4 linked regions of the Homo sapiens genome follow. The protein of the gene in region 2 purifies or fractionates together with the protein of the main gene of each other region. This does not show direct contact. Each region holds a gene or a part of one and is shown on either strand. Other genes may lie near its edges.

Region 1 (7,456 bases), on a different chromosome or scaffold from region 2:
ACTGGCGCTGCTGTGCACTGACAGCCATAAGCCAAGTCAGCCTTTCCCCAGGAGTGCCATGGCTAGGAAGATGCATCTCCCTCGCCTCCAGTATAATTTTAAAAGTTATGGTTGTAAAATGACAAAAGAAAAAAACTAGACATGTACTAAAGAACAAAACAAAAACTGGCTGGGGGTGGTAGCCCACACTTGTAATCCCAGCACTTCGGGAGGCTAAGGCAGGTGGATTGTTTGAGGCCAGGAGGTAGAAGTTGCAGTGAGCTGAGATTGCCCCACTGCACTCCAACCTGGGGGACAGAGTGAGACCCTGTCTCAAAAATTAAAATACTACTTAGGCTACATTGTGGGGGGGGTGGTAAGTCTATGGATTTTGATTTCCTTTTTGCTGTTTTCTATTTTTGGTAACATGTTTATGTAACTTCATTTTTTAAAAAATTGCTACATTCAAAATTTCCCCCAAAAAAGAAACTTCATATACAAGTTAGTTCATATACAAGTTAGAAAATGAAATTTTAAAATACCCCATAAGACACATCAAAGAATAATTCTTTAAAAATGGTACCAGAACCCTACAGAGAATGTAAGGTACCAAAGGATGTTAAAGACCTAAATAGATCACATTCATGGGTGCAAAGAAGTGATACTGTAAAAAGAAAGAAACTCAAAAGATACCTAAAGGCAGGTGAAAAGACATTTACAACAGATAAAGGGCATATAAAGAACAACAGGAAGAAACGAGGGAAATCTTACGGCTCAGCCACTGTCAGGGCTGGGGGGTTCTCGGTGCACCCTGGAAGCAGCTCCCACCACCGGGGCCACAGAGAAACCCACACAAGCCCCAGACACGTGGACAAGAATACTCAGAGCAGCCTGGCTCTCCACAACTTCTGACCAAGAACCACCGGAGGCCCAGCAGAGCAGAACGGAGCAGTCTGCTGTGCCGAGGTGGGTTTCTGCAGCGGACATTATTCGGCTATGAAAATGAACTTGTGGCAGCCCCTCTGCATGGGCAACCCTCATGCCAAGTGAGCAACGTGAGACTTCAGCAAACACCAAGATCCACGTACAAAGCTCAAAACAGGCAAAACTGAGCATGTCCAGGACACGCACAGGTGGCAAAGCCATAAAGCAAAACGAGGACATGGTCACAGGCTGGGATGTGGCTAACCTCCCAGGTGACACCTGGGGATGGTAAGGGGCTGGCCAGGTTCCATTTCACATGGGTGCAGCCTAAACTGCATACAGCTCCTTATAGTTACCCACATGTCCACAGGCCTCACGCACTTTTCTTCTGTGTCACATTCCACAACAAAAGAACACCACACACAGGATTCTGGGGAATCCCACAGGCTGGAAGAGCCAGGAGCGTGGCCTCACCTGGGGTTGATCTCCAGCGTGGGCTGCAGGAGCTGTGCGCGCTCCTCCTGGGTCTTGGCCAGCTGCTGCATGCGCAGGAAGTGGCGGGCAGCCCCCATCTCCAGCACGGTGACCATGGCAGGGTGGGTGTCCAGTCGGAGGGTCACCTGTGAGCAAAGCCCGGGGTTGAGGGTGATAGAGGTTCCCAATGTGAGAGGGCTGGCAGGATCTTACCAGGGGTGAAGGTCACCCAGACCACGAGGTAGCAGGCGGGGTCTCAAGGACTCCCCTGGACCAGCGCTGCTCCCTCCCCATTACCCACTAACTTGTGGGCCCTGAGCTGATGCCCCACGCAAAGATACTGTGCCCGAGGGGCTCCACCACCCTGGTGCCCCGCTGCTGCCTCCAGGAGCTGCCCGAATCCATCGTCCTCTGCTCCATGCCAGCCCACCCTGCATGAGGCCCCTTCCTCCAAGTGACCATGCATGGGACGCTCATTTCTCACTCTGAGCTAGACAGGTTGGTGGGGGGAGTCTTAGCTCTCTGAAGCCCACCCAAAACCCCCGACTAAGCACCCAAGTGAGCATGTGAGCTCCTGAGGGCTGGGGTAGCATGTCCCTTGTTTGGAACCCCCACGTCCTCAGCCATTGCAGCTCCCACTCAGGATGCTGGTTTTTCAGTTCTCAGTTCACACCTGCTCTGGAGCAGGGCTGGGAGAAAGACACGGCCTTCCTGCCTCAGCGGCACTCCCGAGCAACACGTGCCGAGCAGGGACCCACAGGGTCTCCACCTGACACCAAGGGCTTCTGCTGCTGCTGGAAGGACACCCAACGGGCCAGGTACTGGGAGCCACCAGCTGGCCAGCCTGTTAGGGACACTGCGGCCAAGTGGTGGTCCATCCCCGGGAAAGCCTCACCTTCACGTTGGTGACACGCGACCCCAGCACATTTCTCATCCAGGCCATGAGCTCCTCCGTCTCCTTCTCTGATAGGCACTCGGCGGCTGCGGAAGAGCAGGCGACAGGGAGCTCAGGCCTGCATCCCAACTCCCCGGCTTCCATGGGGGCCACGCAGCATGCTTCCAGCTCCCACCTCCTCTCCCACCAGGATGGAGACACAAGCTAGCAAGATGCTTTTCATCTAAAAGTAAAACCTCAAAGGATGCTTCAGGTTGCCTGAGGCCCATACAACTTGGTTAGGGCTTTAAAAAAATACACAGCCTCTCAAGAAGCTGGGCCAGCTCCAGAAGCCACCGTGGCAGGAGCACTGGACAGACCCCTGATATCTAAACCAGGAGGCACCTTCCTCCAGTCACCAGGGTGCTCCCACAAGGCTCTTCTCGGGGGTGGCTGAGCCCAGGTCAACTGACGAAAACCCAAAGGAAGCCCTCGCTGCGGGGCAGGAGAGGCGTGCGGGGAGTGGAAACCAGCCCCACGCCTAGAGAGCAGGGGATGCCGACCTGGGGACCTGTCCTCAAACTTCTCCTCCTTGTAGTGATCCACGACTATGTCCGTCTCCACAGAGATCAGCTTCTTCTTGTCAAACTCACGAAGGTGCAGCAGGGTGAGCTCATCAAACTGCTCAAAGCAGAAGAGAACCTGCAGGTGGCCAAGAGCAGCTCCATCAGACCCCGGGGGCCTCCAGCCACCACAGAAGAAAGGATGAGGGCGGCAGGAGGGCTGGGGGAGCCAAGCGGGCCACACTGGGGAACACCGGGGCAGTTGGGGTTCCTAGGCCTGCATGACAGTTACTACGACACCTGGGTCTAAGGAAGGCTCTGACTGCCTTCAAGGCAGAAGCACTCCACGCATAAAGAAATCCACATGTGGCTGAGTGCAGTGGCTCACGCCTGTAATCCCAGCACTTTGGGAGGCCAAAGCAGGCAGATCATGAGGTCAGGAGTTCGAGACCAACATGGTGAAATGCCGTCTCTATTAAAAATACAAAAATTTGCTGGGTGTGGTGGTGTGCACCTGTAGTCCCAGCTACTCAGGAGGCTGAGGCAGGAGAATGACCTGAACCCAGGAGGCGGAAGTTGCAGTGAGCCGAGATCGCACCACTGCACTCTAGCCTGGGCGAGAGAGCAAGACTCCATCTCAAAAAAACAAAAAACAAACAAAAAAAACCACATGTGACCTCCAAGTGGGAAACAGCCGTCACAGTCGGTCCGGCCTCTGTGCCCGTGACCCTGACCCACTGTGCAGCCCTGCCCGGAGTCTTGGGCAGGTTCACCCAGCACAGAGCTGAGAAGGTCAAGACCCTCCCCAGGTTGCAGCCCCCGGAGCCCGCCCCACCCACCGCTCACCCACCTCTGTGTCTTTCTTCTTCATGGCCTCATAGTAGGGTGAGTGCTCTGCCAGGTGACGGTTGGGGGCGCACAGGTAGTAGATGTTGCGGGTGCCGGCCCGCATGCGGCTGGCGTATTCTGAGAGGCTGGTTAGCTGCCCGGAGGGCAGCGCCGAGGACTCGTAGCGCAGCAGCTTTGCTATGTCCTCCTAGAAGGGACGGGGCAGGTCACCACTTATTCCAGGCCCATGGGCTCAATGTTGCCCAACTAACTGGGCGCAAACCCTCCGATGCCCATGGCCTCCTGGCACTCCAGGCTGGCCCTGACCCGAGGGACGGTAGTGGACTCGGGGGTTGTCCGAGAGCAGGCCTTGCTCTGCCCATCAGGCCCCTTTTGGGAGCTCTGGGGGCTTAGGAAGCACCTCCTGCCCCAGGTGGCCCAGGGGCTCTCCAGGGAGCTACGCGCACCACGCCCTGGGAGGGGACCCCACCCAACAGCAGAGCCCGGCCTGGACCCAGCGTCTTCCCTCTGCCCTCAGTGACAGAGTCAGTCTCTGGTGGGCACACGGACACGGGTGAAGTCCACGGTTCCCGGCCCTCCTCACAGCTGGCTATGGCAGAGACTGGCTTTGCCCAGTGGGTTTCAGTGGGATTTGGAGAAGGGCCCTTAGGGGAGGGGTTTGCCCTCCTCCCCATCAGCTGAACGCAGCTGTGACCTCTAGAGCTCATGGGAGCTGCAGCTGGAAGGACGCAGGGGGAAAACAGAAAGAGGGAAAAGCAAGGAGCTGGACACCCAACCAGCAGGGCCCAGGCCACCCCTGCACACATGGTGGGTCTGCATTGATAAGACATGTCACACGTGCACACCTACAAAGACCTAGAAATGTCTCTGACTCTTACCTGTGTGCTGTTAACTCAAATGAAGATAAAGGAGAATGAAGAGGCCTGTGTCAGAAGCTGCCGAAGTCGGCAAACAACCAGAACACGGCCTCCTTGGGACCCCACACACGTGGTCACCCTCCTCCTGCTGCTGGGGAGAAGGGACACCAGCACGGGATGGGCTCCTGGGATGAAATGTTCTGGGGTTACAGTGGAGGCAGCCACACCACACTGTGAATGCACTAAATGCCACTGAATTTTACGTGTTAAAAGGTGAATTCTGTGAATCTGATGCTATGTAAGTTGTATCTCAATAAAAAATGGACAAAAAATGTTTATGGAACAAATGTTTCGTTTTTCAGCCATCCACTATTGGATTAACTGAACGACTGGCCCCTGTAGCATAGTATTTGGAGACTGATATCCAGTACATGATGAATAGTCCCTCAACAGACACTGAGACCACCCACTTCCCCACCCACGGGATCGGAGTCCTTGGCTTGTCCCACCTGTCTGTGGCTCCCCAGCCCCCAACATCCTCTGAGGGGAGACAGTGTGTGCACGCCCTCTTCCTGCCACTCCCTGGGCTGCACCTTCACACAGCAGTGAGGCTGAGCCCTTCAGAGCACAGCACAGCACTGGTGGGAGGGTAAGGATGTGCCTGGAAGGTGCCAGAGGCCCAGAAGCCTGGCCTTCCATTTCCTGACCCTGGTGGCAGCAGCAGCAGCAGCCAGGGTACCCAGCTGCACCGTCGCCACATCAGGGGACACCTCCACCAGCTTCCTCAGCAGCCCCAGGGACAAGGTGGCCCAGAAAAAGGCCTGGAACACAGCTCCTATACCTTGACCTCCTGCTCGGTGGCGGTCACAATGCCCTCCCGCATGAACAGGCCGTAATCTTCAAAAAACTTTGCATACTTCTCAGCATCTTTTTTACTCTGGTCAATGAAGAATTTGATCAGCCTCTGCTGTAAAACGTCCCGGAGTTTCCTACAGAAAAGAAATGCATTTAATACATACAAGCAGCCTCTATGAAATACAAATGGCCAGAGGGTACGAAAAAATGTTCAGCCCCGCTAAGAATCAAAGAAGTGAAAACAACAAGGTACCGTTATTGGCCAAACTGAAAAAGACTGAGCAGAAAGACAGAAACCCTGGGCAGTGGCCGGACAGGAGGCAGCAGGGTGGAGGGCAGACACCCCCTGGAGGCAGTAGGAGAACCGATGCCCCCAGAGACAAGATACCCACGCCCGGAAAACCCTTCCAACCTTTGAGCCAGTTGTTCCAATTATAGGAACTGCACCTTAGGAAACATGTGAGCACACCAAGATTTATGTACCAGGATTTTCACTGTGGCACATAAAATATAACAATTATGAACAACCTCATGTTCAAGAATATAGGCTAAAATTATGTAATGCTAAATGGCCATAAAAAAAAAAAACTGCATCTTTTAATAATCCTCAATGACATGAGAAAGTTAGCTGTGTTGAAAGAAAACCCAGAAAAATCCCAATGTGGGTAAATTACAGTACGTCTATAGATACAGGCAAAGAATGCACATTCTACATGTACATAACAATTTTCCATCATTAGGAGCAGCACTGTATATACTATATATGTACACTGTAATTTGGGATTTATACTGAATATATGTATACTCTAATTTTTCAAAATTGGGATTTTAGGGATCAGGATATTTACTGCAGCATTACATAATGGCCTAAAATTAGGAACAACTTTATCACTGGGACTAGGGATATTTTTATTTTCTTCTTAATATTTAGTCTTTCCTTTAAGCAGGTAAATTACAATGTATTTCAATAATCCAGAGCATGGGAACAACACTCTCTCGAGTTCATTTAGAGCCTTTCCTCCCACACTCCATCCCCAGTGACTCAGTCCTTCAGCCACAGGGCAGAATGGGACAGGACATGCCTTCGTGCCTGGGAGCGGGGGGACAGTAGCCCAGGATGCGGTGCAGAGCCCAGGGAAGGTGTCTATGCAGGGCCATGGTTGGGAAGAGCCTGGTATGGGTGTCAGAGCCCAAGAACCCCAGAGAAGGGTGTCCAGGCTGGGGGCGTGACCAGCCCACCGTGAAGAGTCAGAGCCCAAGTAGGTGACAGGGACACCCGCAGAAGAGGGCAGTGGCAATGGTAGATTGGTTACATGGAGGGGGATTGGTCAAATGGGTAACCGTGCTAAGAATAATCAACGGGGCATGGTGGCTCCTGCCTGTAATCGCACCACTTTGGGAGGCTGAGGCGGGCGGATCACCAGAGGTCAGGAGTTTGAGACCAGCCTGGTCAACATGGTAAGCCCCCGTCTCTACTAAAAATACAAAAAATTACCAGGGCATGGTGGTGGGTGACTGTAGTCCCAGCTACTTGAAAGGCTGAGGCAGGAGAATCGCTTGAATCCGGGAGGCAGAGGTTTCGGTGAGCCAATACCTCGCCACTGCACTCCAGCCTGAGCAACAGAGTAAGACTCCATCTCAAAAATAAATAAATAAATAAATAAATAAAAATAAAAAAATTTTATTAATGATAGCAAGATTATAAACTCTTGAATAAAACAGGAAATCAGCCCATATAAATAAATTATAAATAGTATAAATATAACACATCAATTTTTTTTTTTTTTTCCATCCGACGAATCTTGCTCTTGTCCCCCAGGCTGGAGTGCAGTGGCGTGATCTCGGCTCACTGCAACCTCTGCCTCCCGGGTTCAAGCAATTCTCCTGCCTCAGCCTCCCAAGTAGCTGGGATTACAGGCACCTGCCACCATACCCGGCTGATTTTTTTTTTTTTTTTTTTTTTGAGATGAGTCTCGCTCTGTCGCCCAGGCTGGAGTGCAGTGGCGTGATTTTGGCGCACTGCAATCTCCACCTCCCAGGTTCAAGCAATTCTCTGCCTCAGCCTCCCGAGTGGCTGGGAT
Region 2 (7,456 bases):
TGGCTAATTTTTGTATTTTTAGTGGAGACAGGGTTTCACCATGTTGGCCAGGCTGGTCTTGAACTCCTGACCTTGTGATCCACCCACCTTGGCCTCCCAAAGTGCTGGGATTACAGGTGTGAGCCACCGCATCCGACCCAAGCCTTGGCTACTTATAATATAATGAGATTATATTTCAAGTTCTCCTGTTAGTATGTTTATATTAAACAAATACTTGAATTTCAGGCAGTTGAAAATCACATGAGCATCTGGTCACCTTTAGCAAAAAGAATCAAGTAGGGAAGAACAAAAAAATCAAGTAACCTGTTTCCAAGGTTTGACAACTTATTTGCAAAGGACAAGGATAAGTTTTTCGTTATCTTAGGAAATATAAAGCATCATAGTATTTTCTCAGCTCTTTAGTGGAAATGACCTTACCCAATGCATTTATCCTCTTCATACTTTCAATATAAAATGTTATGAGTAAAGGGGAAAAGCCAAGATTTTTTAGGGTGAACAAGTGGAATGGAGTTTTTGTTTTTTAAAATGTTGACTGCTATGCTTTTTAAAGCCCTCAACATATTGGATTCATTACTAATATCTTAAAACTTAAAATGAGTGTATTTCATCTTTCGCCATTAGTATTCTAATCTTAACATTGCTACAATTATCTTGAAGCAGAATTTTACAGATTCATGGCACATAGGGGAAGGGGTATCTTAAACCTGAATGCAGGGGTAATTTCCATGTTTATATCATGTCCTGTTCAATTTACAGACTTTTAAAAATATATGCCAAAGAGTTTTTTGCTTCTCTTGTATAGTAGGAGAGTTGTAATTTTAAGTTTTCTCTTATTTTTAGATTACAGTAGAATGCACATTCCTTGACTATATAATGGGAGGATGTCAGCTGAATTTTACTGTAAGTAACACACTGAATTTTTCAGCATAGGCTTTTTCCTCCATGTTGCAGTATATTTTCTTTCACTGCAAAACTGACTTTGTAATGAAATTTTCACAATCTGTTTAGCATAGTCCTCTTAGAGTCCTCAGGCAGGTTGTCTGGGCTCATCATGAAGCTCTCAGTTTTGTTGATGAGATCTCTTCCTCCTGAGAGAAAGCAGATGTATACAAACCTACAAACTAGTGGTTATCCTGAACTAATTTAAGGACTAGAAAGCATTAGTGAGACAACCTTATAAAAGACAACCCTTAAGCTTAAGTAATGGATACAATAATTCATTATTTAAGCCATCTAGAAAAGTAGAAGCATCAGGTTGTTTCACATTTAGGCTTTACTTGTTTAATTGTCTATGGAAATAGTGGTAGGCATTTGTTAGGAAGTAGGCGCCAGGATGCATGATTGTATCCCATCTCTTGAAGTTTTCCTGGACATCAAGCACAGGTGTCCCTGCCTTCTCCTTACTAAGGGCTGCAATTGTTATTTGGCAGGTGGGAGTGGACTTCACTGGCTCCAATGGTGACCCAAGGTCTCCAGACTCCCTTCATTACATCAGCCCCAATGGCGTTAATGAGTATTTGACTGCTCTCTGGTCTGTGGGACTGGTCATTCAAGATTATGATGCGTGAGTATGACTTTGGAAAAACTAAAATACATGTTTTCACAATTCCCCAGAAAGGGTAGTTTGTTTCATCGGCTAGCACTCTGATATAGGTGGTAGGTTGATGATGCTTTCTCCCTAAAATCCCCCCGTCTTATCTTCTATTTTTCTCCTTGTGGCAATCTTGCTGTTTACCTTAGATCTCTAATATCTTTCTGTGATTAGTTATCATATATGGCATGTACTTTGCTTTATATTACATATAGTTTGCTACTTACTTCCTGACTGAATGTCAGCAAGGCTCTTGTTTCTTTAGTCTGGTTTCCTTGGGGCTTATTCATTAGGCATAAGTTGTATGAGTGATTGAAGCCCAGATGACATGTTTTATAAATACTGTTTATAAATACTAAATATTATTTATGTTAAATACTAAATACTATTTATAAATACTAAATACTATTTATGTTAAGAAATAAAAACTATTTCTTAGCATATCTATGTCCTTGGCAGTTGCCAAATTATTTTTTTAACGGTGACTTTTAACAAGTGCTGAAGGATAACTAGATCTAATTGCTATGAAATATTCTGAATGGTTATCAATGGTTAGGTTTTGAAAAGATTTAAATAGGTCCTATTGAGGGTTTACTAAACAATAGGGAAAACATCTGCATTAGTAGTGTTTTTCCTGATGTAGCGTTAAGAGTACAGAATAAAATTTCACTTGCTTTTGTCTATTATTATTTTATTTACATATTGATGGGGCTTTTCATTAATCTGTAGCATTTAAAGAGGTGAAATTTTTAGGCAAATGCAAAGAAATCTAAAGTAAGGTGGCAATTCCAATTTCAGGCTAGTAAGTTTTAAGGTAAAAATCATTAAATATATTTAACATATATAGAAAGTTACTTTATTAGACAGTAGTGAGAGCTTAGAAAGGTGGTCAAATATAACATAGGATTAAAAAATTAATAATTTCTCACTAGCAGATATTAAAAGTATTATTGCAATTATCTTAAGAGTATGGAATTAGGACATGACCAGTGGAACCAAGCAAACAGTCCAGAAATAGACCCATGCATATAAGTGAATTTAGGGGAGGGGGTTGTAAAAGCTGTCAAACTGGACAAGAATTGAATTTGGATCCCTGACTCATACTTGCATGTTTTAGGATATTATTCTGTATAAATTAGAGTACAGACCAGACTGCTGAAATAGACACCCAAAAACAAAGTGGCTTTGACAAAATAGAGGTTTATTTCACTTCACATTGCTAGGGGTAAATATAATAGTTAAGAACTGATAGGGGAGTTCTGCTGTTCTCAATTCACAGCTTCCCTCCGGGGTTCCATAGCTCTGGTTCTCATCTTCTCCAGCCAGGGGGAAGAGAAGAAAGGGACCAGGGAGTGAATGTGCATTCCCTTTTAGGGGCATGATTCAGAAGTGGCTGGCAAATCACTTCTACTCACATCTCCATCTCTAGATCCCAGCCATCTGATCACATCCAGGCCAGAGAAGCTAGGAAGAGCAGTCTCTAGCTCAGGTGTTCTATTATTAAAGGAGAGAATGGATATTGCCGGAGAGCAGCAATTCCTGCTTCATATCCTACTTCAAAACACTTTCCAGATGAGTTAGAAGTTTAATGTCAAAAGCAAACTTTAAAGTTTTAGAAGAAAGTGTATGTGAATTGTTTATAATCTTGTAGTGAGGAAAACCTTTAAGCAAGAGAGCAAAGGCAAAAATCATGCAGCTTTTTTGTGTTCATATTCATTAATATTAAAAACTATGAAAAGAAAGATGCTTTAAACAAAGTTGAAGACAGACTACAAACTGGGGAAAAATGTGTCTTTCTTTCTTTTGAGAAAGGGTCTCGCTCTGTCACCCAGGCTGGAGTACAGTGGTGCAGTCACAGTTCACTGCAGCCTCCACTTCCTGGACCCAAGCAATCCTCCCACCTCAGCCTGGGGGAAATATTTCTGACATGGCATAGGCTCTATCTTCAGTGCAAAACTAACTGTTAAGAATAAATATGAAAGGAATATTCCTCGTAGAAAAATTATGTTCATTATGGTGTTTTATAATGGCGGAACATTGGCTATCAGACATCTGGGGGAGGATATCCATTTTGTGGGATACTCAGTGGCTATTCATGTGATGTTATATATTCGGTCCACTGTCCCTCTCCCTAATGTATGAATGTTTGTATTAAGTGGCATAAATAAAAGCTACCAATAACCTCTGATCATCTGAGGTCAGGTTTTGCTACCAAATGAGTTTGCCATCAATTAGTAAAAAAAGAATTGTGATTTTCAGGGCTTCATGTATTTATTTACTCATTTGATCACTGAAATGATACACAAGATTTAAGTAGAACAGAGTAGGTTATAAAACATGCATGTAAACTCCATTTCTACAAAATCTATAGAAAGAAACATTTTTCTTCCTCAGTGCACAGAAAAATATTTAGGATGAGAGTTGTCAAATATTAACATTGATTCTCTTTGGCAGTTAATATAGGTAATCTTTGTTTTATCTTCATACTTTTTGAAATGAGCTCATATGGATTTTATTGTGGGCAAAGATAAAGCTTTTTATTTTGGAAAAAACAGTATTTTATTAAATATTTTTTTCTTTTTAGTGATAAGATGTTTCCAGCTTTTGGTTTTGGCGCTCAGATACCTCCTCAGTGGCAGGTAAGAGGAAATCTCTATTTTAAAGCTTTGCCTCCTAGAAAAGCAGCCCAGCCCTCATCAGTCCTTTGTCCATCTTTGACAGGTATCACATGAATTTCCAATGAACTTCAACCCATCCAATCCCTACTGCAATGGTAAGTTAAAAAATAAACATGAAGACTTCAAATGGAAAGGCTCACTAGTCTTTGTTATTTTGTTCTTTGTTCTTTGTTTTTTTTCTTGTGATTAAAACTACTCAAATTTCATCTCTAGGTTTCATTTTCTTACATATTTAACTTTCTGTTGTATAAGGTAGAAGAATTGCACCAGGTTGGTGGTTAGGGTGGTAATGGTAATTACGGGGCAAATCAGTATTATGATGATGAAGGTGGTAAGCTAAATCCTCCTACCTTAAGAACTTTAATAGGACAAAAACATTCTCAATCTTTGGAGTAGATCAGTAAAAATATCATATATTAAAAGTATTTTTACATATAAATTTATTTAAAAACAAACCTTCAATAAAATGAGTAATTTGATATACAGATCTTTTGAAGCTTTTTTCAGAGTGGTAGTCACTCTCTACGAAGAGAAAAGTATCCAGCATCTAATACTTGTTGCTCACACAGTATTCTATAAGTAGCTGGGATGGGCAAAAGGAACAAAGAATTGATCTTCTATAGCAGCTTTCCTCTGTGTAGAGAGCAGGAGGCAAATATTTGTCTTTCATTTCACTTTTTTCTTTTATTTATTTAAAAAAATAGAGACAAGGTCTCGCTATGTTGGCCAGGCTGGTCTTGAACTCTTGACCTCAAGCTATCTTCCTGCCTTCTGCCTTGGCCTCCCAAAGTACTGGGATTAGAGGCGTGAGCCACCATGCCCAGCCACGTTTTACTTTTTTCCTTATACCTCAAGTATCCAAGTGCTGCTTCTTTTTTTTACCACATTGAGCAATCAGCCAGAAATGCCAGCTCTTCCACTAAATTATATATCAGACTAAAGAGTTTGGAGAAGGCAAGGTAGGTGTGGGAGCAGAGGCATAATTTAAAATTCTAGACAATACTCTAATTTTCTGCAAAGGGTCCTTTTGACAATTACAAATGTATAGCTTTCTAACAGAAGAAAATGTTTTTTCCTTTTCTTCCTAAACAATATTCATAAGGTGGAAGAGCATGAACAATTTTTGTGGCGGCCGTTTGCAATATGGTTTTGTTCTTTTCCCCAGAACACTTTTTCCATACTAATTCAGTGTTCTTTGAGGCACTTTCAGTGACTGGTTGTGACCTCTTTTATTCCCTAGCCATTTGAAACTGGGAATGTTATTCTTTTTAAGAAATATGCTTCATTTTTATAATGAAAGTGGATAATCTTTAGAATTTGTTGTAATTAGCTTTCATTTATTGTAAATGAATATGGATGACATATCATATGATAATTCATTTTAGAAGTTCAGTCACTCTGTGAGTAATGTAAGCCCATCCTTGGGCTGTTCACCAAGTGGTTTACACTCTGGAAAAAGCATCAGTTTGGTTTTAAACAAAGGAGATACTATACAGCAAAAAGCTCAGAGCCTTATTTTAAGGCAAGGAAGTTTAATCCCCTTTTCCTAACTAATCATTGAATCTAGTTGCCTTAGAAATAATATGCCTTAGAAATAACTTGTTACTTTGATGCATAGAAAGGGTTTTGGCATAATTCAGTTTTAATTAAGGAATTGAAAGCTCTTGATATTTGTGAAGAAATTATTATTATTATTAATTTTTTTTTTTTTTTTTTCGAGACGAAGTCTTGCTCTTTTCCCCCAGGCTGGAGTGCAATGGCACGATCTTGGCTCACTGCAACCTCCTCCTCCCGGGTTCAAGCAATTCTCCTGCCACAGCCCGCCCCCCCCCCCCCCCCGCCCACAACCGAGTAGCTGGGATTACAGGCGCCTGCCACCACGCTCGGCTAATTTTTGTATTTTTAGTAAAGACAGGGTTTCACCATGTTGGCCAGGCTGGTCTAGAACTGCTGACCTCTTGTGATCTACCTGCCTCTGCCTCCCGAAGTGCTGAGATTATAGGCATGAGCCACCGTGCCCAGCCCTAAATGAATTATTTATACCTTTGTTACTACTGGACTGACTACTAGTAACATGGACCTTCTGCATGTAAAATCACCCCTGCCTATGAATTAGTTATGTTCTCAAAGGTTGTTCATAAGACTACCTGTTCCTAAATTCAAAGAAACTAAGAGGAGTTTATTGGAACTCTTACATTTTAAGAGAAGAGAGTTGGTTTCCTGAAGCTTTCAAGCCAAGTATGGTCATGCACTAAAAATGACATTTTAGTCAAGGACAGACCACATGTATGACAGTAGGCCCATAAGATTTTAATATTTTATTTTTACTGTAAAGACATAGAAAAGGTACAGTTGCTATAATTGCCTACATTATTCAGCATAGCAATATGCAGTACAGGTTTTTAACCTAGGAGTAATAGGCTATACCATCTAGGTTTGTGTAAGTATACTCTATGATGTTCATACGATGATGAAATCACCTAACGATGCATTTCTCAGAATTTATCCCCATTGGTAAGTGACACATGACTGTATATGCTTCTCCTTTTTGTTGATCTGTGTTCTCTTAGACATTTTAAAAGCAAGAGACCTGTTTTGATTTACATTAAGTTTTTTTTTTTTTTTTTGTGGCAAGTATCTGTGATGATCTCAGCAAGTATTGTTGGAAATTCTTTAGAATTTCTGTTATCCTGTCTGCATCCTAAATGCTGTGATATTAAGGGCAGATTCAACAGGTGCTTGTGTGGGATACAAGTTTCATCAGCAGTGCTTTGACCAGCAATGTCAGTCAGCTTTCACTGGGTTGTGCTGTTGTAATAAACAATCTCTAAATCTCAGTGGCTTTAATGACAACAGTTTATTTCTTGCTCATTTTACATGCAGCTAGGCTGGAGTTCTCTCCATGTTTCTTATATTGGGACTCAGGCTGAAGGAACAGCCTTATCTGGGATGTGCTGCTCCTACGGCAGAGGAAAGGAGCAAGAGAGCTGGAAAAAACAGGCAGTAGTTCTTAAGACATCTCCTTAGGTATGGGTGTCACATGCATTGGTCAAAGCTAATCAAATGGTCCTGTCCAACTTTCTATTATAAAATGCACCAGCAGGTCTAGGGGTAGTACCCCTAAACAAACACATCAGTGCTTCTGCAGCAAAATGGATAAGTAACCTGGAAGTGAATATTTGGAACT
Region 3 (7,315 bases), on a different chromosome or scaffold from region 2:
GGGAGGTCTAGGAACCTGGGTTTCAGCTCCTCCAGGAGCTCTTTGCCCCATTGCCCTTGGGCCTGGCCAAGGTCCATCTGTGCTCCTTGTCTCAGGATGAATCTTTGTAACTGAGGTTGGTTCCATTTGAGTGTCATCTGAGTTTGATCACCATGGGAGGGGCATGACTGGTGATCATGGTGCCCTGGCTAGGGAGGTCCTGGCTTGACTCAGGGGATGTTTCTCAGCTGGGGTCACTTCTTTCTTGCACATCACTATGCATGCCTACCATAGTGTCTGAGGACGTAGGATCTAGCCCTGGTATGAGGCCCTAGGTCTGTTAGTATCTGGGGAGGAAGGATCTGGTACAGGTATGAGGACCTGGGTCTGTCCATGTCTGAGGAGGTGGGATTTGGCCATAGGGTGGGGCTGCAAGCTGGAATCCCTTATAGCCTGCACTGCCTTTATCCCTCCAGAAAAGCAAGTGTGTATCTAGTCTGTGGTGGCCTCTTTGGACTACATGGCCCTCTTCTCCCTTGGGATCTCCAGAGCCCCCCGAGAGGCTTAGCAGGCCCTCTCCTAGTCACATTATGTCCCAGAAAGCTTTTCCACACCTGTCCCTGCTTTTTTTTTTTTGAACAGATTCTCACTCTGTTTCCCAGGCAGGAGTGCAGTGGCGCGATCTCGGCTCATTGCAACCTCCGCTTCCTGAGTTCAAGCAATTCCTGTGCCTCAGCCTCCCGAGTAGCTGGGATTGCAGGCATGCACCACCTTGCCTGGCTAATTTTTGTATTTTTAGTGGAAACGGGGTTTCACTATGTTGCCCAGGCTGGTTTCGAACTCCTGGCCTCAAGCGATCCACCTGCCTTGGCCTCCCAAAGTGCTGGGATTACAGGCATGAGCCACCATGCCCAACCCTATCCTTGCTTTTGTTTAGTACAAAGCCAGTCCCTGTCCAGCAGCTCTTGAGTTGCTCTGGGCAGGTACAGAAGGCTTCACCAACACCTGGAAGCAAATCCTGTGACTGAAGGAGAGGCCAAGGTTCCCCAAATCCCAGCTGCCTTGGTGAGGGTTGCCATGACCAGGGCCCAGGTGGGTACCCAAAGCCTAGCATTTAGTTGTGGTGACAGCCCTCAAAGGCTGTACTCTTAGCCAGGCATGGTGGCTGATGCCTGCAATCCCAGCACCTTGGGAGGCAGAGGCTGGGGGGAATTGCTTGAGCCCAGGAGTTCAAGACCAGCCTGGGCAACGTAGTGAGGCCCGGTCTCTACAAAAAAAACCCACAAAAACTAACAGTAGCCAGGCATGGTGGTGCGGCACCTATAGTCCCAGCTACTTGGGAGGCTGAGGCAAGAGGCTTGCTTGAGCCCAAGAGGTCGAGGCTTCAGTGAGCAATGATTCTACCACTGTACTCCAGCCTGAGTGACAGAGTGAGACTCTGTCTCTTTGGGAAAAAAAGAAGCTGTGCACTCTGGACCCCAGCCTGCTCTCCCTTAAGAAATGAGCTGATTTTGTGACCGATTTTGTCTTTAGGGAGGTCCTTGCCTGACCTCCAGACCCACCTTTTCCTGGGCATGAGTCCTTCCTGCACAGTGGCTTAAGCAGGAAAGGTTGGGAGGCTGTGTCCTCACTGGTGTGGGGAGGAAGGGGATCGTGCCTGTGGACACGTGTGCAGGTCCACCTCACGGTGTCAGGGCAGGGTGGGTCTGCCTGGAGCATCTGGGCAGGACTTTGGCATGGTGCAGGAAGGAGCAGGATTTGCGTACAGTGTGTGAAGGATCAAGACTTGCAGGAAGAGGGTTGGGTTTTTTTTCTTTCTTTTCCTTTCTTTTCCTTTTTTTTTTTTTTTCTTTTTTTTTGAGTTGGAGTTTTGCTCTTGTTGCCCAGTCTGGAGTGCAGTGGCATGATCTCGGCTCACCACAACCTCCGCCTCCCGGGTTCAAGCGATTCTCCTGCCTCAGCCTCCCAAGCAGCTGGGATTACAGGCATGCGCCATCACACCTGGCTAATTTTGTATTTTTAGTAGAGACAGGGTTTCTCCATGTTAATCAGGCTGGTCTCAAACTTCCAACCTCAGGTGATCCGCCTGCCTTGGCCTCCCAAAGTGCTGGAATTACAGGCTTGAGCCACTGCGCTCAGCCTCTTTCTTTCTTTTTAAATGTTCTTTCATTTTGCCAAGAACTGGGTTTCTGTTCCTTTTCCAGGGCGACATGGAGTCCAATGGGAAATACATCACCAAATCTGGAACCCGTGTGGACCACCAGACAGGCCCCATTGTGTGGGGGGAGCCAGGGACCAATGGCCAGCATGCTTTTTACCAGCTCATCCACCAAGGTAGGCCCCTGTGGCCTGGGAAGGGTGATGTTGGGGGAGGGAAAGGATCTTCCAGAAGAGATATCTCACTTAGGTCAGTGCCCTCCTCTAGGCCATATGGCTAGCTCCCATGGGCTGGGGTCATGTGGGTGACCACAGTGCCCTTCACAGGCACCAAGATGATACCCTGTGACTTCCTCATCCCGGTCCAGACCCAGCACCCCATACGGAAGGGTCTGCATCACAAGGTAAGAGCCCCCATCTGGCCCCATCTGGGGGGTCTGGCTCACATTGCACCCAGACCTCTGAAAACCTGGTGCATTGGTTGGCAATCACGTTAGTTTTCTATTCCTGCCGTAACAAATGATAACAAACATGGAGGCTTAAAACAACACTCTTCTTTTGTGGGGTGGGGAGGGGGGACAGAGTCTTGCTCTGTCGCCCAGGCTGGAGTGCAGTGGCACGATCTTGGCTCACTGCAACCTTCCCCTCCCGGCCTCAAGTGATTCTTATGCCTCAGCCTCCCAAGTAGCTGGGACTACTGGCACTCACCACCATGGCCAGCTAATTTTTGTAGTTTTGGTAAAGGGGGGGTTTCACTATGTTGGCCAGGCTGGTCTTGAACTCATGACCTCAAGTAATCTACCTGCCTCGGCCTCCCTAAGTGCTGGGATTATAGGCATGAGCCACCTTCCTGGGCTATCTGAAGAGTTTCTGAAGCTCAAATATCCAGCAGGCCCTGATGTGTCTCTGCTTAGAGTCTTGCAGGCTGAAATCAAGGTGTCATCAGGACTGTGTTTCTTTCTGGAGACCTTAGGGGAAAAGCCTTTGACCTGCTTGTCAGGTGGTTGGCAGAATTCATTTCTCTATGGTTGTGGAACTGAAGTCCAGCTTCCTTGCTGTGGGCTGAAGGTCGTTCTCAGATTCTCAGAGGTCACCTGCATCCTCTAGCTTGTGGGCCTCTTCACTGCAGAACCAGCAATGGCAGGTTAAATCCTTCTCTGAAGCTTTGATTCTGTCTTGCCACTTCTGTTGCATCTCTCTGACTTGTTTACCTTCCTCTTCTACATTTTGCTTTTGTTCCCTAAGTGACAGTGTCATGCTGTGTTGTCTAGGCTGGACTTACAGTGGCATGATCACAGTTCACTGTATTCTCAACGTCCCAGGCTCAAGCAGTCTTCCTGCCTCGGCCCCTCAAATAGCTGAGACTTACAGGCACTAACAGGCACTTACAGGCACTTACAGGCACTAACAGCCTGGCTAACTGTTAAACTTTTTGTAGAGGCCAGATTTCACTATGTTGCCTAGGCTGGTCTCCAACTCCTGGGCTCAAGTGATTCTCCTGCCTCGGCCTCCCAAAGTTTTGGGATTACAGGCATGAGCTACCGTGCCTGGCCCTCTTTTACTTTTAAGGGCCAGTGTGATTAGATTGGGGCTACTAGATAATCCAGGAAAATCTCCCCTTTTGTTTATTTTATTTATTTATTTTATTTTAGAGATAGCATGTCACTCTGTTGCTGAGGCTGGAGTGCACTGGCCCAATCATAGCTCACTACAGCCTTGAACTCCTGGGCTCAAGCAATCCTTTTATCTCAGCCTCCTGAGTAGCTGGGACCACAGATGTACAACATGCCTGGCTAAGTTTTTTTTTTTTTTTAAAGAGACAGAGTCTTGCTCTGTTGCCCAGGCTGGGGTGCAGTGGCACAATCAGGCTCTCTGCAGCCTCACCCTCCTGGGCTCAAGCAATCCTCCTACCTCAGCCTCCTGAGTAGCTGGGAACAGGCACACGCCACCACACCCAGCTGATTTTTTTATTTTTATTTTTTGTAGAGATGGAGTCTCAGTATGTTGCCCAAGCTGCCCTCGAACTCCTTCAGAGAATTTACTGTGCTTTGTCTCAGGTGTGCAGAGCAGCACAGGGTTACGGTAGCACAATCTTGGGAGTCAGTGAGCTGGATTGAATTCTGATTGTTCCTGTCTATAGTTCTGTGATCCAGCACTGTGGACTTGTGGAACCCAAGGCTCTACTAGAACAGGGCGATGATGCCTTTCCTCCTTAGGATCTTAGTATTATTTTTTTTTCGAGACACCGTTTCACTTTGTTGCCCCGGCTGGAGTGCAGTAGTGTGACCTTGACTCACTGCAACCTCAGCCTCCTGGGTTCAAGTGATTCTCGTGCTTAAGCCTCCGGAGTAGCTGGAATTACAGTTGCACACCACCACGCCCAGCTACCTTCTTAGGATCTTAAAAGATAGATGTTGGTAAAATTGTGAGCAGGACCCCTAGCAAGTGGTGTGTAGTTCTTTTTTTTTTTTTGAGATGGAGTCTAGGTCTGTCGCCCAGGCTGGAGTGCAGTGGCGTGATCTTGGCTCACTGCACCCTCTGCCTCCCAGGTTCAGGTGATTCTCCTGCCTCAGCCTCCTGCCTGATGACAGGCATGCGCCACCATGCCCAGCTAAATTTTTTTTTGGTATTTTTAGTAGAGACGGGTTTCACCATGTTGGTCAGGCTGGTCTCGAGCTCCTGACCTCGTGGTCCATCCGCCTCGGCCTCCCAAAGTGTCGGGATTACAGGCGTGAGCCACCGCGCCTGGCCACTGGTGTGTAGTTCTTAAAGAGCAGTTATCACTGTTCCCTGCCTTGTGGTGTCATCGGATGTGTCCCCCTCGCTCCAACTGAGCTGTACAGCGAGTGACCCAGGCTGGGACTGACCCCTGCTGAGAAGTACCAGGCGGTCTTGTCCCTCTGCCTGAAGCCCAGACAGTGCTCTCAAGCATAACTGATGTCTCGCTCATCAGATCCTCCTGGCCAACTTCTTGGCCCAGACAGAGGCCCTGATGAGGGGAAAATCGACGGAGGAGGCCCGAAAGGAGCTCCAGGCTGCGGGCAAGAGTCCAGAGGACCTTGAGAGGCTGCTGCCACATAAGGTCAGCACTTCTGCATTTGGCTTTGGGGTGCATGCTGGAGTTGGAGGTGTGAAGCTATGGCACCAGGCAGGGGCTTGGGGCGTGCCTGGCTTGTCCTACAGAATGGGAGGGCCTGTCCTCACAGACCTGCACGTCTCAGCCTCTGGGGCAGGGTGTGCTTCCCTTCAAGGGGTTTAGGGATCAGGACTCTCTTGGAGACATTCCTTGGTGTTTTCTGCAGGTCTTTGAAGGAAATCGCCCAACCAACTCTATTGTGTTCACCAAGCTCACACCATTCATGCTTGGAGCCTTGGTCGGTGAGTGAGTAGGGGAAAGGTCCTGGCTTGGGGTAGGTTGGAATGGGCTTGTGGAGCCCTGATGTGCCCTGTCTGTCACTTCTGCAGCCATGTATGAGCACAAGATCTTCGTTCAGGGCATCATCTGGGACATCAACAGCTTTGACCAGTGGGGGTGAGTTGCTCACTTAGGGGAGGGCCGGGAATACCTTTGTGTCGGCTCAGGGATTTCAGTAGCAACGTTAGAGCCTTCCTCATACCACTCTTCCCTTCCCTTCCCTTCTTGGCAGAGTGGAGCTGGGAAAGCAGCTGGCTAAGAAAATAGAGCCTGAGCTTGATGGCAGTGCTCAAGTGACCTCTCACGACGCTTCTACCAATGGGCTCATCAACTTCATCAAGCAGCAGCGCGAGGCCAGAGTCCAATAAACTCGTGCTCATCTGCAGCCTCCTCTGTGACTCCCCTTTCTCTTCTCGTCCCTCCTCCCCGGAGCCGGCACTGCATGTTCCTGGACACCACCCAGAGCACCCTCTGGTTGTGGGCTTGGACCACGAGCCCTTAGCAGGGAAGGCTGGTCTCCCCCAGCCTAACCCCCAGCCCCTCCATGTCTATGCTCCCTCTGTGTTAGAATTGGCTGAAGTGTTTTTGTGCAGCTGACTTTTCTGACCCATGTTCACGTTGTTCACATCCCATGTAGAAAAATAAAGATGCCACGGAGGAGGTTGTAGGCTCAGCCTCTGATTTTTTTTTTCCTGTGATGGTGCTTTATGTAGCAGAGGGCAGGAGCGCTCAGCAGGACGCAGGCTGTGCCTCTGCGGACACTTAACACTAAGTGGTGAGCGGGTCTAGAGTGGAGCAAGGTGCCCTGAGAAGACAATAGTGGGGTGGGGGCACAATCAGTCAGGACGGCAACTTGGCCTGTGTCACCAAATCCCAAGACTGTTTTCCACTCCTCACCTCTGTGACTGCAGAAATTGGATACTCTGTTCACTCGATGGTTCTAAAAACTGCATTGAGATTATGTTTGTTTCGGGTGAATTCCTGGACAAGACCGAGGATGACTGCCATCTCCTGGCAAGACGCTCAGGTAGTTCTTTTGCTTTAAAAGGCAGATATTGAAAACTGGAATTTTTTTTTTTTGAGTCTCGCTCTGTCACCCAGACTGGAGTGCAGTGGTGCAATCTCGGCTCACTGCAACCTCCGCCTCCCGGGTTCAAGCTATTCTCCTGCCTCAGCCTCCCGAGTAGCTGGGATTACACGGCGCACACCACCATACCCAGCTAATTTTTGTATTTTTAGTAGTGAAGGGGTTTTACCATGTTGGGCAGGCTGGTCTTGAACTCCTGACCTCAGGTGATCTGCCCGCCTCAGCCTCCCACAGTGCTGGGATTACAGGTATGAGCCACCACGCCCGGCCCATTTTTTTTTTTTTTTTGACAACTTTTTTTTTTTTTTGAGACAGGGTCTTGTTCCATTGCCCAGACTGGAGTGCAGTGGCATGATCACAGCTCACTGCAGCCAGTAATCCTCTTGCCTCAGCCTCCCAAGTAGTTGAGACTACAGGTTGTACCACTATGCCCTGCTAGTTTTTTCATTTTTTGTAGAGAGACGGGTCTTTTTTTTTTTTGAGACGGAGTCTCGCTCTGTCGCCCAAGCTGGAGTGCAGTAGCACGGTCTCAGCTCATTGCAAGCTCCGCCTCCCAGGTTCACGCCATTCTCCTGCCTCAGACTCCTGTGTAGCTGGGAGTACAGGCACCTGCCACCATGCCCGGCTAATTTTTTATATATTTTTTTAGCAGAGACAGTGTCTCACTGTGTTAGTCA
Region 4 (6,675 bases), on a different chromosome or scaffold from region 2:
ACTTCAGTTTAATAATCTTGGCAGACTTGGGTCTTGTTAATGGGTTCGTAGTTATTAAATGTAGGGACTTTATGTTGCTCATCTGGGATTATATAGATTGGAAGTAACAAAACTTGAGTGAGGAAAACCGGGAAATAAGAGATTCTGTGGGAGAGAAGTCCATTCCTCTACCAAACTTTCACTCAAGCACTCACAGTACCTACATTGCTGCAGTGGTAGAGGAGGCATCAGCAGAGAACCAGGCCAGCCTCCCTCCTCCTTTCCCTTTGAGACAGGGTCTCGTTCTGTCACCCATGCTGCAGTACAGTGGCATGATCATGGGTCACCCCAACCTCTGCCTACTGGGCTCAAGTGATCCTCCCACCTTGGCCTCCCGAGTAGTTGAGACTACAGGCTCACACCACTATGCCTGGCTAATTTTTTGTATTTTTGGTAGAGATAGGGTTTCGCCATGTTGGCCAGGCTGGTCTTGAACTCCTGAGCTCAAGTGATCCACCTGCCTCTGCCTCCCAAAGTGCTGGGATTATAGGTGTAAGCCACTGTGCCTGGTCTGGGACATGCTCTTATTGCAGGACAATTGACACATGTTGAGAAGTGCTGAAAAACCAAATAAAGCAGGGAAGGGCCTAGATAAGGAGAGGAGGGACTGTGATTAATGATGTGGTTTGGGAAGGCATCTCACCTCTTCAGACAGAGTAAGCCACACAGGCACATGGGGAGTGTCCAGAGAGAACAGCAGTGCGAGGCAGAGTGACCAGAAGGGACAGTGATAAATGAGGTCAGAGAGGGTGGCAGGACCTGTATCGTCAAGGATCTTACAGGCCATGGGAGGGATTGAGCTTCTCTGAGTTTTGCAAGAAGCCATTGCCAAGGCTGTGTGTTCACAATCAGACTGGTTAATTGGGTTGTTATGTGGACCTTGGGTTGTTAGGAAGTCAGTGGCAAGAGCCTGTCAGGAGGCTCCCACAGTCCAAGCAAGAGGTCTAGGTGATTCAGACCACAGTGATGATAGGAGTGATGGCGTAGTTTGGGATACATTTTTAAGTGGAGCTTACTAGTAAATATTAGGATTTAGACTGGTATATGCTCACTTTAGATCATGAAACCTGAAGTGAGAAGAATTCTACTTAACAAGACTGCTGGAAACTTTTAAAGCATTTTAAGCGTGTGCTCAATAAGCAGGGTAGTTATGTAGTGGCCTTTTGGATCAATGGTTTGGGAACGTGGTGGAGAAAAGGAGGGTGATAATACGGTCTGATGCCTATGTGATCCCCCAGTAGCCTACATATGTGCCTAACGAAGACCTGCCTGTCACCAGGTACTGCCTAGGTTCTAAGCCCCAGACTGTGGCTGACATCTTCAGCAGCCAAGCTCAGTGTTTTAGACTAGGAACAGAATGCTCCTGTGATGCAGCTTCTTTTGGAGGTAGGGCTTTAAAAGAGAAGAAAGCAAAGACTTGGGAAGCAACAGAATGGGGAGGAGGAGGTTAAGAACAAGGAAGAAGCGCTCTGGGCATGGGGTGGCCCTGGGCTGCAGCACCCTGCCTGCCCCTCTCCTGTGGCCGCTGGGGAAAGCTGCTTTCCTCTAATGGGAGAAGCCTGATGTTCAGCTGCAGTTTTTCTTTTTATGTTTAAGTGATTCTGTAAGCTTAAAATTCTTTTCTTTTTTCCTTTCAGGCACATAGCAGTATTTCCCTGCAAGATAAAAATCCTCCCTCAGTACATTTTTAATTCTCGAGATCCGATAGTGATGGGGGTGACGGTGGAAGCAGGTCAGGTGAAACAGGGGACACCCATGTGTGTCCCAAGCAAAAATGTAAGTTCTAGTTGTACATTCTGTGGGTCATTTCTTAAAGCACTAAATGAGTGTCCAAGAGTCGTACCAACACAGCTTTGTGCCTGTAGTTCACAGTACTGTGCTGTGTATTTAGTGTGGTCTCCACCTTCTTAACAAATGTTTCAGTGTTTTTACCTCAGTAGGAAGAAAATGTGGTAACTTTAAAACAAGCAGAGCCTGTCACCTTCTGTTGTGCTTCAGTATTGGTAAATATCAGTGCTCCATAGTCAGTGTTGACTCAGTGCTGATCTCAGTGCTTCAGTTAATTGGGGCTCCAAGGCACTTTACATTATTGCCTTTTATTTTATTTTGAAAGGTTTCAAGCCTGTGGAAAAGTTTAAAAACTAGTATAATGAACACTCATGTTTACCTTCCCTTTCTGTCAGCATACCTAAGAAAAATTAATAATATTTCAACAATATCCTATAATTTGCAGCCCTCAACATTATTTCACCAGTTATTCCAAAGATGTTTTGGTAACTCTCCCCACCAATCTGGCCCAGTGCCCTGCAAGCTGCATTGCACTGGGGCTTGTTTTGTGGCTGAGCCTCAGTCAAGAACAGTCCTCCATTCTTTTTGAAGTGTCCCTGTTGTTTTGCAAATCCCTCCTCCATTTGGATTTATCTGTTTCTCTCCCTCCCAACTAGACACAGGTTAGAATTATTGGAAAGACACTCATGCAGTTTCCCTGTGTGCCTGCCTCTTGCATGACCCAGCCTGTCTGACTGCTGCTGATGCTCTGATTTCCTGGGGAAAGTGCTAGACGCCAACCATCTCCATTAGAAACTTGCCCCTTTATAATTACTCTGTAATCTGTCTGGTACCTGGAGTTCCTAATGGATATCCTGTTTCTCAACAGCCTTTATCCCAGTGCCTTTAGTACCCACTGGCAAGCGTTGCCTAAGTCAACTATTACGTAGATGGTTGCAAAATTGTGGATATACCTGTCCCCCCATTTCTTACAAAGAACCTCTTCCCACTGACCTTTTTATTGAGTCATAGACTCAGTGGGTTTTTTTTTTTTTAATATAATCCATTACCTTTATTCTTTTGATACTCAGATTTTCTATTGTGGTCAGTAGGAGCTCAACTGGCTCCTGTATCCTTGACACACAGCAGTCTGAGCATCATCTTCCTTTCTGGTTGAGATGTTCCAGCCTCATCTAGTACTTTCCCTGGCCCAAACCTGGTTCTTGTAATGGGCAATGGCACTTAGAAGTTGTCATTGCTTTTCTACCATTTCAGTGGACTAAGCCTGGACATTTATTTGTGTTACTTTCTATGTGGCTTTGGCCTCCTAAACCAACCAGAGCTCTCCCTGTTTTCACTCTTACTCTCCTGAATCTTTTTCTCCACAAAGGAGTCAGGGTTTTTTGCCCCAAACTCTGAGATCACATCACTCATCTGCTCACAGGCCATCATTCTTAAAATTTCAGGATTGGTCCTCACTCTGACTTCATTCCCATCAGCCACTTCAAGCTCATTCCTGACTCAGACCCTTTGTGCCTGCTGATCCCTCCTATTACGGCACCTGTCACGTGAAATGGTAGAGCAAAAATAGGAAATGACATTGGGTCAACAGGGCACTTGGAATGTTTTGCAAAGCACATTATCTCCTGTCATTCTTACAACCATCATGAAGGGAATAGGGTGTTGGTGGTGCCAGCCTAGTTTACCAAAATGTTACACCGTGAGTGATGAAAGGATCGCACTGCCATGACTTTTAAAACAGGCTTTTGCTCTAGTTCTTACTTCAGCTATCCAGCCATGGCGCCTGTGATTGGCATGAATTCTTCTGCATGCATTTTAATTTGTTCTTATTTTATAGTTTGTTGACATCGGAATAGTAACAAGTATTGAAATAAACCATAAACAAGTGGATGTTGCAAAAAAAGGACAAGAAGTTTGTGTAAAAATAGAACCTATCCCTGGTGAGTCACCCAAAATGTTTGGAAGACATTTTGAAGCTACAGATATTCTTGTTAGTAAGGTAAGTATTTCAGCAAAAGTGGCACACTTTAAGCAACAGGGAATCACTCTTCTTGGGTCACCTGTACCTGTAGCTCCTTGGGCTTCAGTTTGATTGTAGAATCTGATGGGACTGGATCCCCCATTAGGGCTTGACCTCTAGCTGGGCCTTGTCTGTTGAGGAAGTTGCTCTATCAGGAAAGCAGCACCAACAGAGAAAGCTAGGACTTTTAGGTCCCCTCGTGCCTGACATGCAAACCAGATGTGATTTTGGAATTCTACTCCCTTAGGCAGGCAAGCCCTGTTTTTTATTTCTGCTTAAGCTTTTTAGTACAGTGAGAGCGGGCATCTGGGGCCACAGCTTTCTTTGGCACGTTTGTTATGTTCTGTTTACCCTGTTTGTGCCTCGGGCATTGCAGATCAGCCGGCAGTCCATTGATGCACTCAAAGACTGGTTCAGAGATGAAATGCAGAAGAGTGACTGGCAGCTTATTGTGGAGCTGAAGAAAGTATTTGAAATCATCTAATTTTTTCACATGGAGCAGGAACTGGAGTAAATGCAATACTGTGTTGTAATATCCCAACAAAAATCAGACAAAAAATGGAACAGACGTATTTGGACACTGATGGACTTAAGTATGGAAGGAAGAAAAATAGGTGTATAAAATGTTTTCCATGAGAAACCAAGAAACTTACACTGGTTTGACAGTGGTCAGTTACATGTCCCCACAGTTCCAATGTGCCTGTTCACTCACCTCTCCCTTCCCCAACCCTTCTCTACTTGGCTGCTGTTTTAAAGTTTGCCCTTCCCCAAATTTGGATTTTTATTACAGATCTAAAGCTCTTTCGATTTTATACTGATTAAATCAGTACTGCAGTATTTGATTAACCAAGCTTCTGCAGATTTTGTGATTCTTGGGACTTTTTTGACGTAAGAAATACTTCTTTATTTATGCATATTCTTCCCACAGTGATTTTTCCAGCATTCTTCTGCCATATGCCTTTAGGGCTTTTATAAAATAGAAAATTAGGCATTCTGATATTTCTTTAGCTGCTTTGTGTGAAACCATGGTGTAAAAGCACAGCTGGCTGCTTTTTACTGCTTGTGTAGTCACGAGTCCATTGTAATCATCACAATTCTAAACCAAACTACCAATAAAGAAAACAGACATCCACCAGTAAGCAAGCTCTGTTAGGCTTCCATGTTAGTGTAGCTTCTCTCCCACAAGTTGTCCTCCTAGGACAAGAATTATCTTACAAACTAAACTATCATCACACTACCTTGTATGCCAGCACCTGGTAACAGTAGAGATTTTTATACATTAATCTTGATCTGTTTTAATCTTGATCTGTTTTAGTAGAGATTTTTATACATTAATCTTGATCTGTTTTAATCTTGATCTGTTTTGTCCTAGAAAATTCCATCATACACACATTTCCTGATATTTGGGCTTAGTGCTTCTAAATTGTTGCAGACACAAAACTTAATGATTCATTCGTAGTAGTAATCTGTAGCTAGTTTTAGGGTTTTGCTGAAGTCAGTGTGGGGTGTTTGTTTGAGGAAAAAGTTCCAAATATCCACTAGCATAGAATTTTAAACTATTTTTATTTTAAAGTTATGGCATAACATATAACATAAAAATATTTTATATACGTTTGAAAAATCTATACCGTTCTTTTTTATCATCAAAGTTTCTCAATGGCCAGTAGAAGCAAAAAGACAACACCACCTCTGATCTACGGGACATAATGTTCCCAGGAAAAAAATCTTCAAGTGGGTGTGAGGGTGTTTCTAATTCAAAATATGTAGATTTCTCCGCATGGAAGAAGTAGTAAAGATTTTCTTAACATGCTCCTGTGTTCATGCTTGGAGACAAGAATAAGATGGTTTAGAAGCTTTACCCTTTCTTGGAACAAGTAGAATCCCGGTCTGAGACCTCTCAGGAATTTCAGAGCTTAGCAGTCTGGCCTGGAGGTTTTTCAGCCTTTTAGTATAATAAACAGTAGTTGCTTCCTAGAGTTGAGTTTTTAAGGATTCACAAAAAGGAGCCTGTACAAAATATACATACAGTTCTTTATTAAACAACTGTAAACACTTCACTGTAAAAATCCATAAAACTTTATAAACAAACATTTTGTAAATAGAATCTATGCTACAGTAAAATAATTAACACAATTATTTACATGCAATACTGACAAATTTGGCACTTTTTGAAAAGAAATGTACAAAACACTTGCTTTAAAAGAAATTTAAAATTATAAAAACTCCGAGCATTACTATCATGCACTTTGCAAATACCTCACAAGCACTTATGGCACAGCTATCAGAGAGCATCAGGCTCTCTGGTAATATTTATGTAACTTTTAATGTGCTTCCATAAGTTTGTTGTAAAACCACCTGGACATTGTCAAGAATAAAGTCAAATGCCATATTCCAAACCGATTCCACCGATTGCTGCATCAGCCTAAAGGTGGGGAGAGAAGAAATGTCATTAGGAATTAGGAAAGGTCCTTAAGACTAATTATTCCTTTTTATATATAAAAATTGACTTTGGCAAAAAAAAAAAAAAGTCCTGGCCAGGTGCGGTGTGGCTCATGCCTGTAATCCCAGCACTTTGGGAGGCCGAGGAGGGCGGATCACCTGAGGTCAGGAGTTTGAGACCAGCCTGGCCAACATGGTAAAACCCCGTCTCTACAAAAAATAGAAAAATTAGGTGGGCATGGTGGCACATGCCTATAATCCCAGCTACCCGGGAGGCTGAGGCAGGAGAGTCACTGGAACCCAGGAGGCAGAGGCTGCAGTAAGCCAAGATCCTGCCACTGCACTCCAGCCTGGGCGACAGAGTGAGACTCCATCTCAAAAAAAATAAA

The links.
Region 1: the proteins of CPNE3 (region 2) and TRAP1 purify together in Homo sapiens (affinity purification with mass spectrometry, with the first as the bait; one large-scale study listed by BioGRID). This does not show direct contact.
Region 3: the proteins of CPNE3 (region 2) and GPI purify together in Homo sapiens (affinity purification with mass spectrometry, with the first as the bait; one large-scale study listed by BioGRID). This does not show direct contact.
Region 4: the proteins of CPNE3 (region 2) and EIF5B purify together in Homo sapiens (affinity purification with mass spectrometry, with the first as the bait; one large-scale study listed by BioGRID). This does not show direct contact.

The regions. Positions count from the first base shown.
Region 1 is NC_000016.10:3,660,610-3,668,065, forward strand, and holds part of TRAP1 (heat shock protein 75 kDa, mitochondrial isoform 1 precursor), read right to left. Parts: intron 5,510-7,456; coding exon 5,362-5,509; intron 4,853-5,361; exon of another isoform or gene 3,851-4,852; coding exon 3,665-3,850; exon of another isoform or gene 2,954-3,664; coding exon 2,815-2,953; exon of another isoform or gene 2,359-2,814; coding exon 2,273-2,358; exon of another isoform or gene 2,037-2,272; intron 1,524-2,036; coding exon 1,378-1,523; intron 1-1,377.
Region 2 is NC_000008.11:86,546,871-86,554,326, forward strand, and holds part of CPNE3 (copine-3), read left to right. Parts: intron 1-840; coding exon 841-900; intron 901-1,430; coding exon 1,431-1,564; intron 1,565-4,175; coding exon 4,176-4,230; intron 4,231-4,312; coding exon 4,313-4,364; intron 4,365-7,456. UniProt on the Homo sapiens protein: Calcium-dependent phospholipid-binding protein that plays a role in ERBB2-mediated tumor cell migration in response to growth factor heregulin stimulation.
Region 3 is NC_000019.10:34,394,118-34,401,432, forward strand, and holds part of GPI (glucose-6-phosphate isomerase), read left to right. Parts: intron 1-2,183; coding exon 2,184-2,313; intron 2,314-2,463; coding exon 2,464-2,540; intron 2,541-5,089; coding exon 5,090-5,218; intron 5,219-5,438; coding exon 5,439-5,514; intron 5,515-5,601; coding exon 5,602-5,668; intron 5,669-5,783; coding exon 5,784-5,919; 3' UTR 5,920-7,315. UniProt on the Homo sapiens protein: In the cytoplasm, catalyzes the conversion of glucose-6-phosphate to fructose-6-phosphate, the second step in glycolysis, and the reverse reaction during gluconeogenesis.
Region 4 is NC_000002.12:99,395,084-99,401,758, forward strand, and holds the end of EIF5B (eukaryotic translation initiation factor 5B), read left to right. Parts: intron 1-1,676; coding exon 1,677-1,815; intron 1,816-3,664; coding exon 3,665-3,826; intron 3,827-4,223; coding exon 4,224-4,331; 3' UTR 4,332-6,157; downstream 6,158-6,675. Other genes in the region: DNA repair protein REV1, read right to left, coding at 6,158-6,269. UniProt on the Homo sapiens protein: Plays a role in translation initiation.